2 separate regions of the Homo sapiens genome follow, and region 2 is linked to region 1. The links come from fine-mapping of genetic effects on gene expression. Tissue or cell type: whole blood. Region 1 holds a variant in brackets; the other region holds the start of a gene. All regions are shown on one strand. Distances are from middle to middle.

Region 1 (8,108 bases):
AAAACCAAGATTACCTAAAAGCACTAACCAAAGGAAAACTCCCTCACCTCAACCCGTGACTGCTCACATTTTTCAGATTGAATAATTTCAATTGTATTTTAAGGTTGACTCTTTACCACCTCCAAGCTGCTCCTGAACACAACTATTATTTTTTAATTTTGAAAAATTTTTCACTTCTAGAATTTCCACTTGAGGCTTTGTTATTACTGTAGTTTCTTCTTCTCTGCTGTGATTTTCTATCCATTTATTATAAGAGTTTTTGGGGTTTTGATTTTAGTAAGAATTATAATAACTACTTTAAAAAATCCATACTAATTCCAACATCTCGGTCGTCTCGAGGTCAGTCTCGATTGATTGCCTTTTTCTTTGAATATGTTTCTTGGTATGTTTGATATAATGGGATTGAATCCTGAAGATTGTAAAAACTGGATATTTTTTGTTCCTCTGAAAATTGATAATTTTTTGTATTTTTTTTTCTATTGTATACTTTACATTTTCCTCCAAGGGTTTTAACATTTCTAGTTCTCAAAACATTTACATTTATGTTAAAAATTATACAAAGTAGCTTGGTACAGTGGCTCCCATCTGTAATCCCAGCACTTTGAGAGGCCAAGGCAGGAGGGTCACTCGAGTCCAGGACTTGGAAACCAGCCTAGACAACAGGACAAGACCTTGTCTCCACAAAAAATTATTAGGGTGATACAAAAAGTAATTGCAGGTTTTGCCATTACTTTCAATGGCAAAACCCACAATTCCTCTTGCACCAACCTGATAAAAAATAAGCTGGGTATGGTGGTGGTATGTGCCGGTGGTCTCAGCTATTTGGGAAGTGAAGGCAGAGGTGGGAGGATTGCTTGAGCCCAGGAGTTCCAGACCACCCTGAGACCCTGTCTCTACGGGGAAAAAAAAAAAAAAAAAAAAAAATTAGCTGGGCCCACGTACCTGTGGTACTAGCTACTTGGGAGGCAAAGGCAGAGGTGCCAGAATCACTTGAGCCCAGAAGCTCAAGGCTGCAGGGCACTGTGATTGTGCCACTGCACTCCAGCCTAAGTGATGGAGCATGACCCTGACTCCAGATAATAATAATAATTACAAAAAGGAAAGACCTAGAACACCAGGTTAAAGTATTCTAAAATTTAGCTGACTTACTCTGCTCTCTATAAAACAGGGTTGCCACAGAAAATATAGCATGCCCAGTTAATTTTAAATTTCAGATAAACAAATACTTTTTTCAGTGTAAGTATACCCCATGCAATATTTGGGATATGCTTATACTAAAACTTATTCTTTGTTTATCTGAAATTGAAATTTAACTGGGTATTACATAATTATAGCAGCCTGACCATAAAAGATATGTAGGCTGAGCAAAATTCTACTTTAAACTTCAAGCTTTATAATAAATGCATTATTAATCAACAACTATTATTTACTGAGACCTGTGTAGATCCCCATATTTATTTTTAAATGTGGAACTAGGAAATCTATATAAAGAACATTTATAGAAATGAATGACTGTTCTATAGAGCTGAAAGGAAAACTCTAGCTTTTATTTTTCTCCCCAAACTTAAGCTTTATTTTACATTTGTATAAACAATAAAATTACCACTCAACTTTGGAAGCACAGATCATAATATGAAAATAAAGCAAAGATCCCAGAAACATTTAACAGGCAACAAATCTTTGACATCATCTTACTATAGCAACTAAACGTATAATAATTTAGAACGATCCATTAATTATAAGAATAAATTCTTTTACAAAGCATAACTATTAATATTATTTGACCATCATAAGAACAAACATTTTAACTAAAACACCATGAATACTTTACAGAAAGGGGCGAGTTGCAGACACAGTCCTTCTTGGATTTCTTTTAACACCAGGCTTTCTTCCCTTTTGACCTGAGCTGGGAGTTGAATATTTCCTCTCTTTGCCCTCTGACCCTCTAGTCTCTGAAGCATCTTTTGTACTAGAGGTGTGTGCAGAGACTTCCTGGAAATTTGGATCTGTAAATTGTGCTGTTGTATCTTCTAAGCACTGCAGTGATCTGGATATAGAGCTGTTGCTCTTGCTTGTATAAGTGTAATATTCTGATTCAAAAAAGGAAGTGAAAGGAAGGGAGTTGATTACATTTGGCTACAGAAAAAAAAAGATGACACTAATAATAAAAATAAATAATAATTGTACTTGTAATATAAACATCTGAAAGTTTTAGTTCTAAGAATGGCAGTCCACATAAGAAAATTAGGTAAAAATAATTAATATCTATTATAATTATTTTTCTTTAACCAAAGAAAAAGTATAATTTAAAGATGGCTGTTTAAGCATCAAATTGCAGCCATTGGTAAAAGTAGATATTAGTCATATTTATTAAGTGACACACAGTGATACTGAAGGCACTTGTTTCTCAGCAACATCATTTTTTCCCCAATAAGAACGTACTGCATCCTAGACGTGAAATGAAAATAAGCTTTAATTTTCACCACAGGAGGGCGACAACCAGAGAACTGAGGGGGTACAGATCCATTAGAGGACCATATCCATGAGCTTAAAATGCTCTACTGTAAGAGCAAGAATTTTTAAAGAATCTCGGTGAAGGCTCCTTTTCAAAAAAGCACAAAGATTAAAGCCTTTGAAATGTAAATTATTTTTTGCAGTTATTACATTGAGGACAAAGTTATAGTCGCAAAGTTAAGATTTTTATAACTATCCCTAAAATTGATCCTCAGTGACTCCTTGATCTACATATGTTAAGGAAAAAGGCAAGACACAGATATGTTTAAATAGTTTCCAATTTTCAGTAATCAGCTTCAATATAAGGTATACCCAAATAATGGTGAATTAAATGACCATGAAAGCACGTTATAGCAGATGCCCGCTCATCAATATGCCTTGAAATTAAAGGTTTATAAGGTGCATAAGGGCAAAGGTTTTGATGTTGCCATTACATTCGCAAAAGTATGTGAGGCACGTACAGCATGAAGTTCACTAAGTGCTTGCAACATAACCAGCACTAAATTTTGTTGAATAAATAAATGAATACTTTTGTATAGCATCTGTTCAAAATCTGATGTAAAAATGAAAATAATCTGAAAATATGCAAAACTGAAATTTCCCACAGACGGCTGCCAATTCATACAAACCATAAGATGAATTTCAAAATGAGAACGTGACAATAAAATCAAGTTTCAAAATGGCTGGCCTTTTTTTTTTTTAGCAAAACCCATGTTCAAAAAAAGGAATAAGACATCAAATGTTTTGAGAACCAAAATTTTACTGCTGCTTTTCTAACACCCTGTTGCTAACCTGAGCCCCCATCCTCTTACTGTCAATAACAGATTTTCATCATCAAACACAAGAAACACGCTGGGCACAGTGGCTCACACCTGTAATCCCAGCACTTTGGGAGACTGAGGCGGGTGGATCACTTGAGGTCAGGAGTTTGAGACCAGCCTGGCCGACAGGGTGAAACCTCATCTCTACTGAAAATACAAAAATTAGCTGGGTGTGGTGGTGGGCGCCTGTAATCCCAGCTACTCGGGAGGCTGAGGCAGGAGAATCGCTTGAACCTGGGAGGTGGAGGTTGCAGTGAACTGAGATCGAGCCACTGTACTCCAGCCTGGGTGACAGAGCAAGACTCTGCCTTAAAA[A/G]AAAAAGATAAAAATACAATAAACATCTCATAAAAACAAAATAATCACTATTCTAACAAACCACAGTCCACAAATAAGAAGTTTCAAAAAGTAAGTTTAAAAGAAAAAAATTTTTACCAACCACTCACTTTTAAGCTGATAAAACTGCATGGCTTCCTTAAGAAACAAGAATCCCTTCGATGCTGAGCAGGTCAGTTTGGAAACCACCCCACCTCATTTTTCAGTACTTTTTTCCAAATACTTGAGTTGATCCTGAGGTTCTCTATTTCTCTCACATTTGATCCTTGCATGACTTACTGAAGTTGAAAAGTTATTTAAGAAGACACAGTGGTGTTCTTCACTCATGTAATTTGTTCATGTATCAAATAAAGGATGGAGAGAAAACTGGATGAAATACCAGAAGTTAAGAGATACATCAAAAACAGTACCATGAGGGAAAAATTTATAGCTATAAATGATTATAAAACATAAGATACTGAATCAACAACTTTACTCCTAAGGAACTAAAAACAGAGGGAAAAAGAGGGACAACTAAAAGCTAGCAAAATTTTAAAAATGATAAAGATAGCAGTGGAAATAAGTGAAATAGAGAACAGAAAAGCAATATCAAAAATCAACAAAACCAAGTTTATTCTCTGGAAAAGATCAAAACTGACAAAAATTTTATCTAGATTGACTAAGAAAAAAAGGGAATACTCAAATTACGAAACTCAGAAGAAAAATGGGTACATTACTAACAAATTTTTGGAGTAAAAAAAGGATGTAGGAGAGTACCATAAGGAACTATACACTAAAAAATTGAATAACCTAAATAAAATGAACAAATTCCTAGAAACAAAAAACCTACTAAGACTGAATCAGAAAAGTTGAATAAACCTATTCAGCAAGGAGATTCAGCAGGAAGATGGCATAAGTAATCAAAAACCCAGCAACAAAGAAAAGCCTGGACCAGATGGCTTCACTGTTGAATTCTACCCAACGTTTAAAGCAGAATTAACACCAGTTTTTCTCAAACTTTTTCAAAACGTTGAAGAGGAGGTAATGTTTTCTAACTTATTCTATGAGGCCAGTATTACCTTGACACCAAGCCAGACAAAGGCACCATAAGAAAACTACAAACAAACATCCCTTACAAATGCTGATGCAAAAATCCTCAACAAAATACCAGCAACTCAAACTTAGCAGTACACTAAAAGGATTATACACTATGAATGAGTATAATTGACTCCTGAAATAAAAGTATATTCCAACACATGAAAATCAGCGTAATATCACATTAACATAAAGAAGGAAAAAAGCCTCATGTGATCACATTTTAATCAAAGAAGAAAAAGCATTTGTCAAAATTTAACCCACATTCATGATAAAATGTACTTAATAAACTATAAAAAGAAAGAAAACACTTTAACATAATGTCATACAAAAAACAAAAACACAGCTAATGTGGTGAAAGACTGAAAGCTTTTACCCTAAGAGCAAAAACAAGGATGCCTGCTTTTACTACTTCTGTTTAATATAGTACTGAGGATTCTAGTTAGTTAAAACATGAGTAAAAGAATAAAAGATATTCCAATTTTTTTAAAAGTAAAATTATCTGTTTGCAGATGACATAACCTTATATATTAAAAATCTTTTGGTTTCTGTGAAATAAACTGTCAGATACAATAAACAAAATTCAGCAAAGCTGCAGGATACAAAATCAATACACAAAAATCAGTTGTATTTCTACAATAACAATAAACTATCTGAAGAAGAAATCAAGACAACAGTATCATGTATGATAGCATCAAAAGAATAAAATACTTAGAAACCCACTTAACCAAGAAAATGAAAAACCTGTACAGCAAAAACTATAAACATGGCATGAACGTATTAAAGATGACAAATAAATGAAAAGACATCATGTGTTTATGGACTGGAAGACAAAACCTTGTCAAGATGCCATTGTTATCTATAGTCATCTACAGATTCAATAAAATCACTATAAAAATTCCAATATTTGCAAAAATAGAAAAACCTATTCTAAAATTCAGATGAAATCTCAAAAAATCCCAAGTAGCCAAATCAATCTTAAAAACTAACAAAGTTAGAGGACTAACACCTCCTGGTTTCAAACTTACTGCAATGCTTCAGTACCCAAAACTTGTACCAGCATAGAGACAGAGACAAAGACCAATGCGATAGAAATAAAGAACCAAAAAATATGGTCATGATTTTTAACACAGGAGTCAACACTATTCAATGGGAAACGATGGTATTTTTTGAATGGTGTTTAAAATGGATATTTACATATACCCATATGTATGTATATATCCCAAATTAGCTTTTTGTCTGTCATGTATGTGGCAGATCTATTTCCCCAGTCTGTTGACTTTTGACTTAGAGGCATTTTTCTCTCACACAAAGTTTCAATTTTTATGGAGTCAAATACATCAGTCTTCTATTCAGTGACTTCTTCATGGGAATGGTGTTTGATTTTAGGATGATAAAGAAGTTGTAGATATGGATAAATTAGATAAACTAGATGGTTGGACAACACTGAATATACTGGATGCCACAGAACTGTACATTTAAACATGGTTAAAATGGTAAGTTTTATGTTGTGTATATTTTACCACCAAAAAAGGGCCAGGCTTAGATGTTTACATGTTAGGGGTTTGGAGTACCTCTAACATTTATTCCCCTCCAGGGGAATAATTTATAAACACCCACACAAGAAAAGTAGATACTGACTTCACAAATCTCCTTACAAGTCCCACAGCAAGGGCTGTCTGGGAAAGCAGAGATGGAAAAAGTCACATAAACTTGAGGTCAGTGTGAGACCTCCCATCCCCTACTCTGGAATCAGATGGAGGAAGGCAGGTATGCAGGCTGAGCTGGAGAGATGAGCTGGGGTGGGCAGAACTGTCCTCCCATGAGCCCAGACCTTAACTGCTCCCACATGCTCCCAGGCATGTATCAAACCAAGAAAGCGGCTAGGAGGGTAACACAGCTACCTGTATACAGGGAGCCATGAAATATCTGAGCTGCGCAAGTGATGCACAAGGAGATGGAAGCAGTCTGACCTTTACACAGTGACCTGGCTCAAATAATTTCAGGCTCTCAATCAGGCGAGCTCCACTTTCTCTCTGAGGTAGGTAAACTTGAGGGGTTTAAGTGGGAGTTGAGGATAATGGAAAAGAAAGCCTGGTAGTATTTCTTCTAATTCTGTTATAAATAAAAAGTAAAACAAATGCCTTTTCTCAGGGCCCAAATGTTAGGTGAAAAAATGTCATCTCAGTCATGTGATGTGGACTTCAGCAGAGCAGTACCCTCATGGTCATTTATCCTTTCCCTCTGCATGTTGTGTGCTTTTTCAGTTTACAATGTACCTGATCCACTTGTCTCATCACACTAGCTGCAAACAAGGCCACTGCATGTCACACCAGGTGGCCAGCATGTCTGTGAAGGGCAGAAACGGGGGCAGCCAAACAGCTGGCAGAGGCCAGCTAGTAAGTACCTGATGCCCACTCCATAGAGGACTCCACACTTAAAAGACAAGATAAGCAAGTGTCAGGCTGCCTCACTAGTTATCCCCCCAAATAAAAAAATAAAAGTAACCCCTCCAGGGAACATGTTTGTGTGTACACAAAGTACATGCACACAGCTACATGCAAACGGGAAAGGCTGGGAAGGAACCAAATCCACCTCTGAACACCAGTTACTTGTGGGGAAGGGGCACGTGAAGCCAACTGTCAGCATTACTCACCTTTTCAACTGATGAGCTTGCATCAATTTTGGCAATTTCTCATAAAAAGACAATTTTCACTCCTTGGGTGATCACCCAGGTCCTGCAAAACTGAGCCACCAACAACCACCTGCACCACTTCCCATGAGGCCAAATAATGGCTTCCCTCAAAGCTCAGCCCTCCCACCCACCTCCCAGTCCTGTACCGTGCAGGGGGGCTGCCGGCCTCCTGGGGTGCAGGGGGGCTGCCGGCCTCCTGGGGTGCAGGGGTCCAGGCCAAACCCAACCTACAGATGGTTGGTGAAACCAGCACGTATCCAAGGGCCTTTTCCCCACCTGTGCCATGTGCCGACTGCATAGATAGGCCTGTGCTTGCTCCCCCTAGGACAGAGATTCCCTTTTCTTCCATTGGAATGAGGGGTGGGGAGATTTGATGGTATTCTGTACAGGTTGGATGTTAATCTGATGTGGTGCTCTTGGAAAAGCTTGCCTGAGTTCGGCGCTTTCTCAGCACATGGTGTGTGCTGCCCCTTCAAGCTGCAGAAACCCCAGAAGGTAAGTGCTAACTGCAACCCCCATTTACTGGTGAGCAGAGGTCAGGTGATCTGCAGCCAGCCAAGCAGCTGCTAAGTGGCCAACAGGCTGGATCTGCATCTCACTTGCAGAGGCCCTGCCTGGCTGCTGGGACTGCCCTGAGACTCCCTCCTCCTCCTCCTCTTCCCTCCACAGCT
Region 2 (8,108 bases), 35 kb before region 1:
ATTTTGTTATTTTTATGGCTGCATAGTATTCCGTGGTGTATGAAATGGTTTGGAAGGTGGCCCCTATAAATCTCATGATGAAATGTAATCCTCAGTGTTGGAGGTGGGGCCTGGTAGGGTCATGGGGATGGATCTCTCATGGCCTGATGCCGTCCTTGTGATAGTGAATTCTTTCAAGATCTGGTTGTGTAAGGGTGTGTGGTACTTACCCCCACTCCCATTTTCTCTTGCTCCTCCTCGGACCATGTGATGTGCCTACTCCCTCTGTGCCTTCCATCATGAGTAAAAGCTCCCTGGGGCCTCCACAGGCGCCATGCAGATGCCATCACCATGCTTCCTGTACAGCCTGCAGAGATGTGAGCCAATTAAATCTCTTTTCCTTATAAATTACCCAGCCTCAGGTATTTCTTCATAGCAATGCAAGAATGGCCTAATCATACTGTGTAGATGTACCACATTTTATTGATCCAATCCACTGTCGATGGGCACCTAGGCTGACTCCATGTCTTTGCTATTGTGAATAGTGCTGCGATGAACATGCAAGTGCATATGTCTTTTTGGTAGAATAACTGATTCTCTTTGGGTTATATACCAGTAATGGAATTGTTGGCTTGAATGGTAATTCTATTTTAAATGCTTTGAGAAATTTCCAAACCGCTTTGAACAGTGGCTGAACTAATTTACATTTGCACCAATTATGTGTAAATGTTCCCCTTTCTCCACAGCCTCCCAAGATCTGTTGTTTTTCAATTTTTGAATAGTAGCTATTCTGACTGGTGTAGGATGGTATCTCGTTTTGGTTTTGATTTGCATTTCTCTGATGATTAGTGATGTTAAGACTAATCTTTGCCACCAAAAAACTAGGAAAATACAGTGTCACTTGTCAAAATAAATTGTTTTACTTTGCTTTAAAAATAATCAATTGAGTAGTATATTTCTTCCAGCAAAATTAAGAAGTAAACATTTAGAATTGTACAGTACCTTGCTGTTAAGTCTTCGCACAAGTATACCAATCGAACATAAAGGCCACCTTAAACTTTCATTTGAAATGAAAGACAATTTTTAAGAGGTTAAGGGCTAGTAATTTCTTAAAGTCCTGAAGTTAAATTAGCTCAAGTAAATGCAAAGACTTTCCTTTAATTAAAGACTTTTAAATGAACACTTTAAAGCATAGTTGGTTTCTCCCTCAAATCTTGTCCAAAGCCACTGTTTACAACTCAGCATATCAAAGAAGGCTTCAGACATGATTGTGAAGCTCCCTCAACTTACAGTGTGCTATTTGCAACCTTAGATGCTATCATTCTGGCTTTTCTAACTTTTAGCAACAATAAGCACACCCTTCTCATTTCTCCCCCACCCTGACTTACCCCTCTTTTCATTTAATATACAATTTTTCTCAGAGTGTTCTTACACATCTTTAACTGTAAATATGACAAAAGCACACAGTATAGTACATTTATCACATGTATAAATGCTGTATCTAGTCATACAATTTTCCTTTTAAAAAAGAAATATTTTATTTTCAAAAAGCAAAGACTCTAGGAATCTTTTCTAGCTGCCAGTCATAAAAACATAAATTCCTGGTTAGTTTCCCAAATTTGCCTGACCATAAGAACCACTTGTGATACTTGTCAAACACATGTATGCTGAGTCCCATCCATGATCTCCTGAATCAGAATCACCAGGTGAGAGGCCTGGGAATACACATTTTAAACAAATGTCCACAGTGATTATGATTAGTAAAGCTTGAAAAACATTTCACTAGGATCTTTATGACTGAATAACCTCACAAACATAGGAAAGTTACTGGAAAAAAATATGAGCAGAATTTCAGAATTCTGCCTTTGCTGAAAGTGTTTGTTCCCTCCTCCTCTACTCATCAAGACCTGACTGCTTATGCAACTCCCCCAAACCATCAATGGGAAGAGCTGAAAATGATTTTAATGAAGAAGAAAAGCTGATGTTTAATTTCAAAACTGACGGTTTGAATAGAAGGGAGAGGCATGAATTTATCTTGATTCTAACAGAAAGCATTGTATTTGGGTCTACAAACGAAATTGGTTTCATTTTTATTTTTTGTAAGTTTTCGCCAAACTCTGTGCATATATAGAGGCTGGGCAAGAAAGAAAGAAATCCAGAAATACGGCATATGCCATCCCTTATTTATTTCCCCATGCGACCAGCCAACAGCTTCTTCACCTAGTCCCTGCTTCAAGCTGACTTTCAGTCTACTTCTCTATCGGAAATGGAGCTTCCCCAAAGACTGCCTCAATGTCAGTTACCCAGAGGCCTTTTTTCCATCTTGGGCTCCTAAACTTCTATGATATTAAATGATACTACCCTTTCTGGAAATTCTCCTTAGCTTTGATTTCTATAATTTAACTCTGTTTCATTCCTTCTTTTATAGCCTTTCTTTTCTCTATCCCTTTACTGTAGACATATTGTACGACTTTGTTCTTGACCTTCTGATCTCTCCACATTCATTCCTTCAGAGCATGTATCCATTTTCTTGGTGTCAGGCTTCCTGACTATCTGATTATTACCATCATATAACGATGTTGGTGATGAGCATAGCTAACATATCCTAGGCATTTTCCATGTAGGTTATAATAAGCACCCTATATAACTCGTACCATTTAATTCTTCAACCCTAAATGATACTATTACTAACCACATTGTATGAGACGAGGAAACAGATTTTCATCAAAACCCTGGAAAGCCAACGTGAGGAGCCCCTGTGTGTCTCCTTTGTTAATGACTCCGGGCATCATGGCATGTGGATTGCCATGGAATGGGGATTAGGAAGCGCAGCACTGTGAAAACACCAGAAAATACGTTGATAGCGGTAAGGACGCTCATCTCTGCACATTGTGACGGTTTTGTTTCTGAGTCAGGTTTGAGATGAGCCAATCCTGACTCCATGGTGCCACCAGGGATCACGAATTTAATAAGATCTTCGTGGATGCTTGGAACCCAACTGGTCTCGGTTTTCTACTTTAGGGAAAGAGCCACAGCTTGAGTGGGGTGGTTTTGGTGTCACATACGCGATTAATAACACCCACCGCTGCAGAGGAATCACCGTGGACTACTCCTCCTTTCATCCCATGCTCTTGCGATGGATCCCTCTCACCTGTTTACTGATTTCATTCAAATTCTTCAGCGACCACAGGACCCCGACTTGCCTTCTCTATCCTGGTTCCCTCACTCTGCTTTACAGGCCTGGCCTGCTCGCTGCTCCTCACACCAGCGCTGCACGGCTCCCTCCACGCCTCCGCCCTGTTTCCTCCATCAGACAGGACTAGCTTCCTCCATCTCTGTCGGGCAAATGCCTGCCCAGCCTTCAAGACCCTCCTCAGATGCCGCCTCCACGATTAGGCTTCTTTCAGACCCCTGAGCCTGTAACACGGGCTACCATAACTCTCCACCTCAGCCCACATTCCCACAGCACTCGCGACGTCCGCGACCCTCAACATGGCGCTTCATTCTCTTTTAGGGTATTTCCTGCTTGTTTCCTGCACACACAGTCGCGCGAGGCGCAGTCCTGAGTGACCCACGCACGAGTGGCCCGCGCTTCCAGCCGCGCCGCCGCAGGCCAGCGAGGGCAGCCTGAGCCGCTTCCCGCCCCGGCGAGGACCGTCGCCAGCCCGCTGCTCTAGCAGGAGGCGGTTCCACAGCGCACCCGGCAGCCCAGCCACCGTCAGCACCGCGCCTCGGGCGGGCTTTTCTCCCTTCCGGGAGGCGCGAATCCTCAGGGGCTCCTTGAGAGGGCGCCAGGGAGCAGCTGCGCGCGGATGCCTTTTGGCCCTCTGCGGCCGCCGTAGCTCCCCGGCAGAAACCCGGAAGTGGAACTCTGAGCCATTCAGCGTTTGGGTGAAGACGGAGGCGGGTTCTACAGAGACGTAGGCTGTCAGGGAGTGTTTATTTCGCGTCCGCTTCTGTTTCTCCGCGCCCCTGTGCTGCCCCGACTCACATACTCGTCCAGAACCGGCCTCAGCCTCTCCGCGCAGAAGTTTCCCGGAGCCATGGCCGAGTACTCCTACGTGAAGTCTACCAAGCTCGTGCTCAAGGGAACCAAGACGAAGAGGTGGGTCCTGCAGCTTGGGCGGGAGCCTCCTCCGTTCTTTTCGGACGCACTCCACCCCCGCAACTCCGGTGGAAGCCGTGGCGCGGAGAGCCGGCTTTGTGGCCTCCCAGGCTTCGCCCTGGCCCCTGTCCGGGCTGGACGGAGGCCGGGCCGCGGTTCCCGGCGTCTGTGCAGAGAGGGGCAGCCTCCCGCGCGGACGACCCTGGAAACAGGATAGACGGGCAGGTGACCCGTGACCCCGTACCCACGAGTTTGGGTCCCCTGAGGCATCTCTCCAGGCCTCTGCCTGGGGGGTCTGCATTAGTCTGATCTCGTAGTTCATGATAATTTCCTTTATTAGGGATTATTATTTTCTCCATTGTCTCTTTTCTTTCTAGAAAACTTATTAATTTTTTCTAATCTAATATGTACAGTGAAACCAGGATGAATCACACAGTGGTTGAGGTGTATATGGGCTTTAGGGATATGGGCTCGAACCTGCACTCTTGTCATTTACTAGTTTTGTAATTTGTGGCAAATTGGTTAATATGTCTGAACTTCCATTTACTCATTAAGAGATCAAATATCTGAACCTCCGTTTACACATTTATACTTTCAGACGTTTTTTATACTTTTAGAAGACTGTGAGGATTAAATGAGAGAACATATATGCAGAAAATAAATTGAGCCAAATGTGAGGAGGAGGTCGTAATGGTAATTTATTAGCTTTTTAGGAAAAAATACCTGTGCACTCATATCCCCGCTTCTTTTTTAACTGGCAGATTTGCCCGAGGTACATACAAATGTCGAGTATTTCCTCCTGGTCTCCGTGATAAACAGAGGTTTTGATATTTTTAGGCGAGATAGAAAGTATCAAGGAGTGAGTTGAAGCCACTGGCCTTGAGAACCCTCTCGAGGAGTCTGGCCTCATGAAGATGCCAGAATAAATGGCAGGTTTATCCTGAATGAATGTGAGATTTTTACTCTGTGAATTTCCTGGGAGGAGAGGAGAGTTATCTTCTGAAAACTTTATAATGAAAATGCAGACACGGGTGTCTTAAGATCATCGTAATAATCATAATTAATGCTCATATAGCACTGTCAATGTGCCAAGAAATTGTTGTAGGCACTTTGCACATTAACTTTTTTTCAAATCACTCTTGGTTTTTTATTTTTTTATTGAGATATAATTCATAATTATAAAATTCACCCTTTTGTACAGTCAGGGGTTTTTAGTATATATTCAAGAGGTTCACCACTGTCTAGTTGCTCAGCATTTTCATCATCTCAGAAGGAAATCTCCCCCTACCCATTAAAGCAGTCACATCCCATCCTCCCCCTCTCCTAGTCCTTGGCAACCACTAATCCGCTCTCTATGTGAAATCGCCTATTCTGAATATTTCCTAAGAAATCATGCAACATGTGGCCTTTTGTATCTGGCTCCTTTCACTTATAACATTATTGAGGTTCATCATTGTTGTAGCGCCTGTTCCTTTTTATGGCTGCATAGTATTCCATTGTATGGATGTATCATTTTGTTCATCCATTCATCAACTGATGAACATTTGGGTTGTTTCCCCTTTTTGGCTATTGTGACTAATGCTAGTGTGAATATTCTTATGTAAGTATTTTTGTGGGTGTATGTTTTCATTTCCCTTGGGTATACATACTTAGGAGTAAAATTGCTGGGTCATGTGGTAACTTTAACTTTTTGAGGAACCCCAAACTGTTTCCTGTAGATGCTGCACCATTTTACATTTCCACCAGGAATGTGTGAAGGTACATATTACCTCTTAATCCTCACAATAGCCTTAAGAGTTAGGTTAAGTTACTATCCTAATTTTTTAAGTGGGGAAACTGACTCAGAGAGATTCAGTACCTTTTCCAAAAATCACGGAGCTAAGAAGTGAAAGAATCAGGATTTAAAATCTGGCAGTGTGGCTCTACAATCTGCTTTGAACTCTAACGTAATATGTGCAAAGCCTGAAGCAACTTCTCAGTACTGTATTTAAGAGGGCATATCAATGTAAGTCTTCCTAAATCAATAATTTATAAATGAAACAGCTTAAAAGACTTTCAAGTTTCAATCTTACAATATTTATCGTACAAATCAATATACCTAAACTCGTCTATATAAATTATGTCCTGTAGTAAGAAGAAAAAGAGCAAAGATAAGAAAAGAAAAAGAGAAGAAGATGAAGAAACCCAGCTTGATATTGTTGGTGAGTCAGTTTTCAGTGCTCTATTCTGAAAAAAGTTAATGTTTCTTGAGATCTCCTTGAAAGTGTTTTCCTAGTTAGAAATTTATGATGTATTCATATTTGTCTTAAAGTGCTTAAATATTACCTACAGTTATAAATTCCATTTATTCTTTAACACAGTAGATGCTACTGATGCCTTTACTTCATTATCAGGAGAGAAAAATTATAACTCTCTGACTTAGTAGGCACCATTAGACTGCTTAATAGCCAGAGATTCTAATACATAATTTTAAAGGCCTAATGTAAATGTTATTCAACCAAATATCTTTTACAAGTTATTTTCTTTGCACATGTATGCATTTTAATTGTAGAAGTCGGTTGTCTCTTAAAGGAAGTATCTTCACAGGAAAAATCATTATTTTGTGAACTCTGAAATGAATGAAAATTTTAAATACAACATCAGGGTAGCCTGTAAATGATACTAGAAATAAACTGACCTAAACACACTTAACCAGCCTGTTTTCCGTTTAGTTCTTTTCCATACATATTTTTTTCTCTTTTAAAACTTGGCAAGTTGCATTTTGAATCTTCATAAATTATGGTAACTTAATATATAAAATATGGAATGGTATAAAGCTAATGTTCTGGAAGAATCATTGCTTTCAAAATGGCAAATCAACAATTCTAAAATTAGGGTAAATATCTAGGGTAGATATGTAGATGTGGAATTGCTGTGTCAAAGGATAGGTGAATGTTTAACTATATAAGAAAATGCCAAAAGTTTTCTAAAGTGGTTGTGCCATTTTACCCTCCTACCAAGAATGAATTAGTGCTCCAGTTACATCCTTGCCAAGAGTTGATGGTGTTATCAGTCTTTTCTCCCAGTCTGAGTTTTACCTTTTCAGTTTCTTAATGGTGGTTTTTGGATGAGCAGCTTTTTTTTGAGACAAATTCTCACTCTGTCTCCCAAGCTGGAATGCAGTGATGCGATCTCGGTTCACTGCAAGCTCCACCTCCCGGGTTCATGCCATTCTGCTGCCTCAGCCTCCCGAGTAGCTGGGAGTGCAGGTGCCTGCCACCACACCCGGCTAATTTTTTGTGTTTTTAGTAGCAACAGGGTTTCACCATGTTAGCCAGGATGGTCAGAAGCTTTTAATTTTTATAAAGCTCAGTTTATTTTTTTTTTCTTTTATGGTTACTGTCTTATGTCTTTGATCTAAGAGATCTTTGCTTACCCCAAAGTCAGGAAAATATTCTACATTGTCTTTTAGAGGCATCATAGTTTTAGTTTTTACATTAAATCTGTCATTCATCTCAAATTAAATTTTGGCATGATGTTGTGAGTTCGGTTTCAAGATTTACTTTTTTTTTTTAAACATCTTGATAGCCAGTTGTGCCAGCACCACTGGTGTTTCCTTTTTCCATTAATCCACTTTGGTATCTTCATAAAAAATCAATTAACTTTCTATGTATTGGTCTGTTTCTGGACTCTGTTCTATCGATACGTTTGTCTGTTTTTCTGTTGGTATATTTCTCTTGATTGCTATAATTTCATGAAGTCTTGAGATCAGGTAGTGTGAGTCCTCCGACTTTGTACTTATTAACTGTTAATTTATTAATTTCTGCAGTGAAGTTTGTTGGATTTTCTCGAGAACTGTATTGAGTCCAGATCATTTGGGGGAGATCAACATCTTAATATTGGGCCTCAATATTTCATAATTTTCAATGTAGCCATCTTGCATGCCTGTTTAAACATTTATTCTTAAGTATTTTATAATTTTACATTACTGTCAATAGAACCTTTGAATTTGATTTTCCAGTTGTTTGCTGTCAGTATGTAGATA

The links. PIP is the estimated chance that this variant, and not a neighbour inherited with it, causes the effect. A credible set is the group of variants that fine-mapping cannot tell apart.
Region 2: FRG1 starts here. The variant in region 1 is the best candidate, but not a certain one, in a credible set for the expression of FRG1 in whole blood (TOPMed, PIP 0.79).

What each region holds. Positions count from the first base shown.
Region 1 is chr4:189,971,766-189,979,873 of GRCh38, forward strand. It overlaps the pseudogene MLLT10P2. Among named protein-coding and RNA genes, the nearest start is that of FRG1, 35 kb to the left of the region's middle. RefSeq lists a silencer at 3,461-3,631. The variant A/G (reference allele first, on the strand shown) is at 3,651.
Region 2 is chr4:189,936,988-189,945,095 of GRCh38, forward strand. It overlaps FRG1 (FSHD region gene 1), which reads left to right and starts at 3,885. Exons shown (of 9, transcript NM_004477.3): 1 at 3,885-4,084; 2 at 6,215-6,285. The coding sequence starts at 4,023. FRG1-DT (FRG1 divergent transcript) reads right to left here and starts at 3,746. Exons shown (of 4, transcript NR_149039.1): 1 at 2,672-3,746; 2 at 210-346. RefSeq lists an enhancer at 4,191-4,690.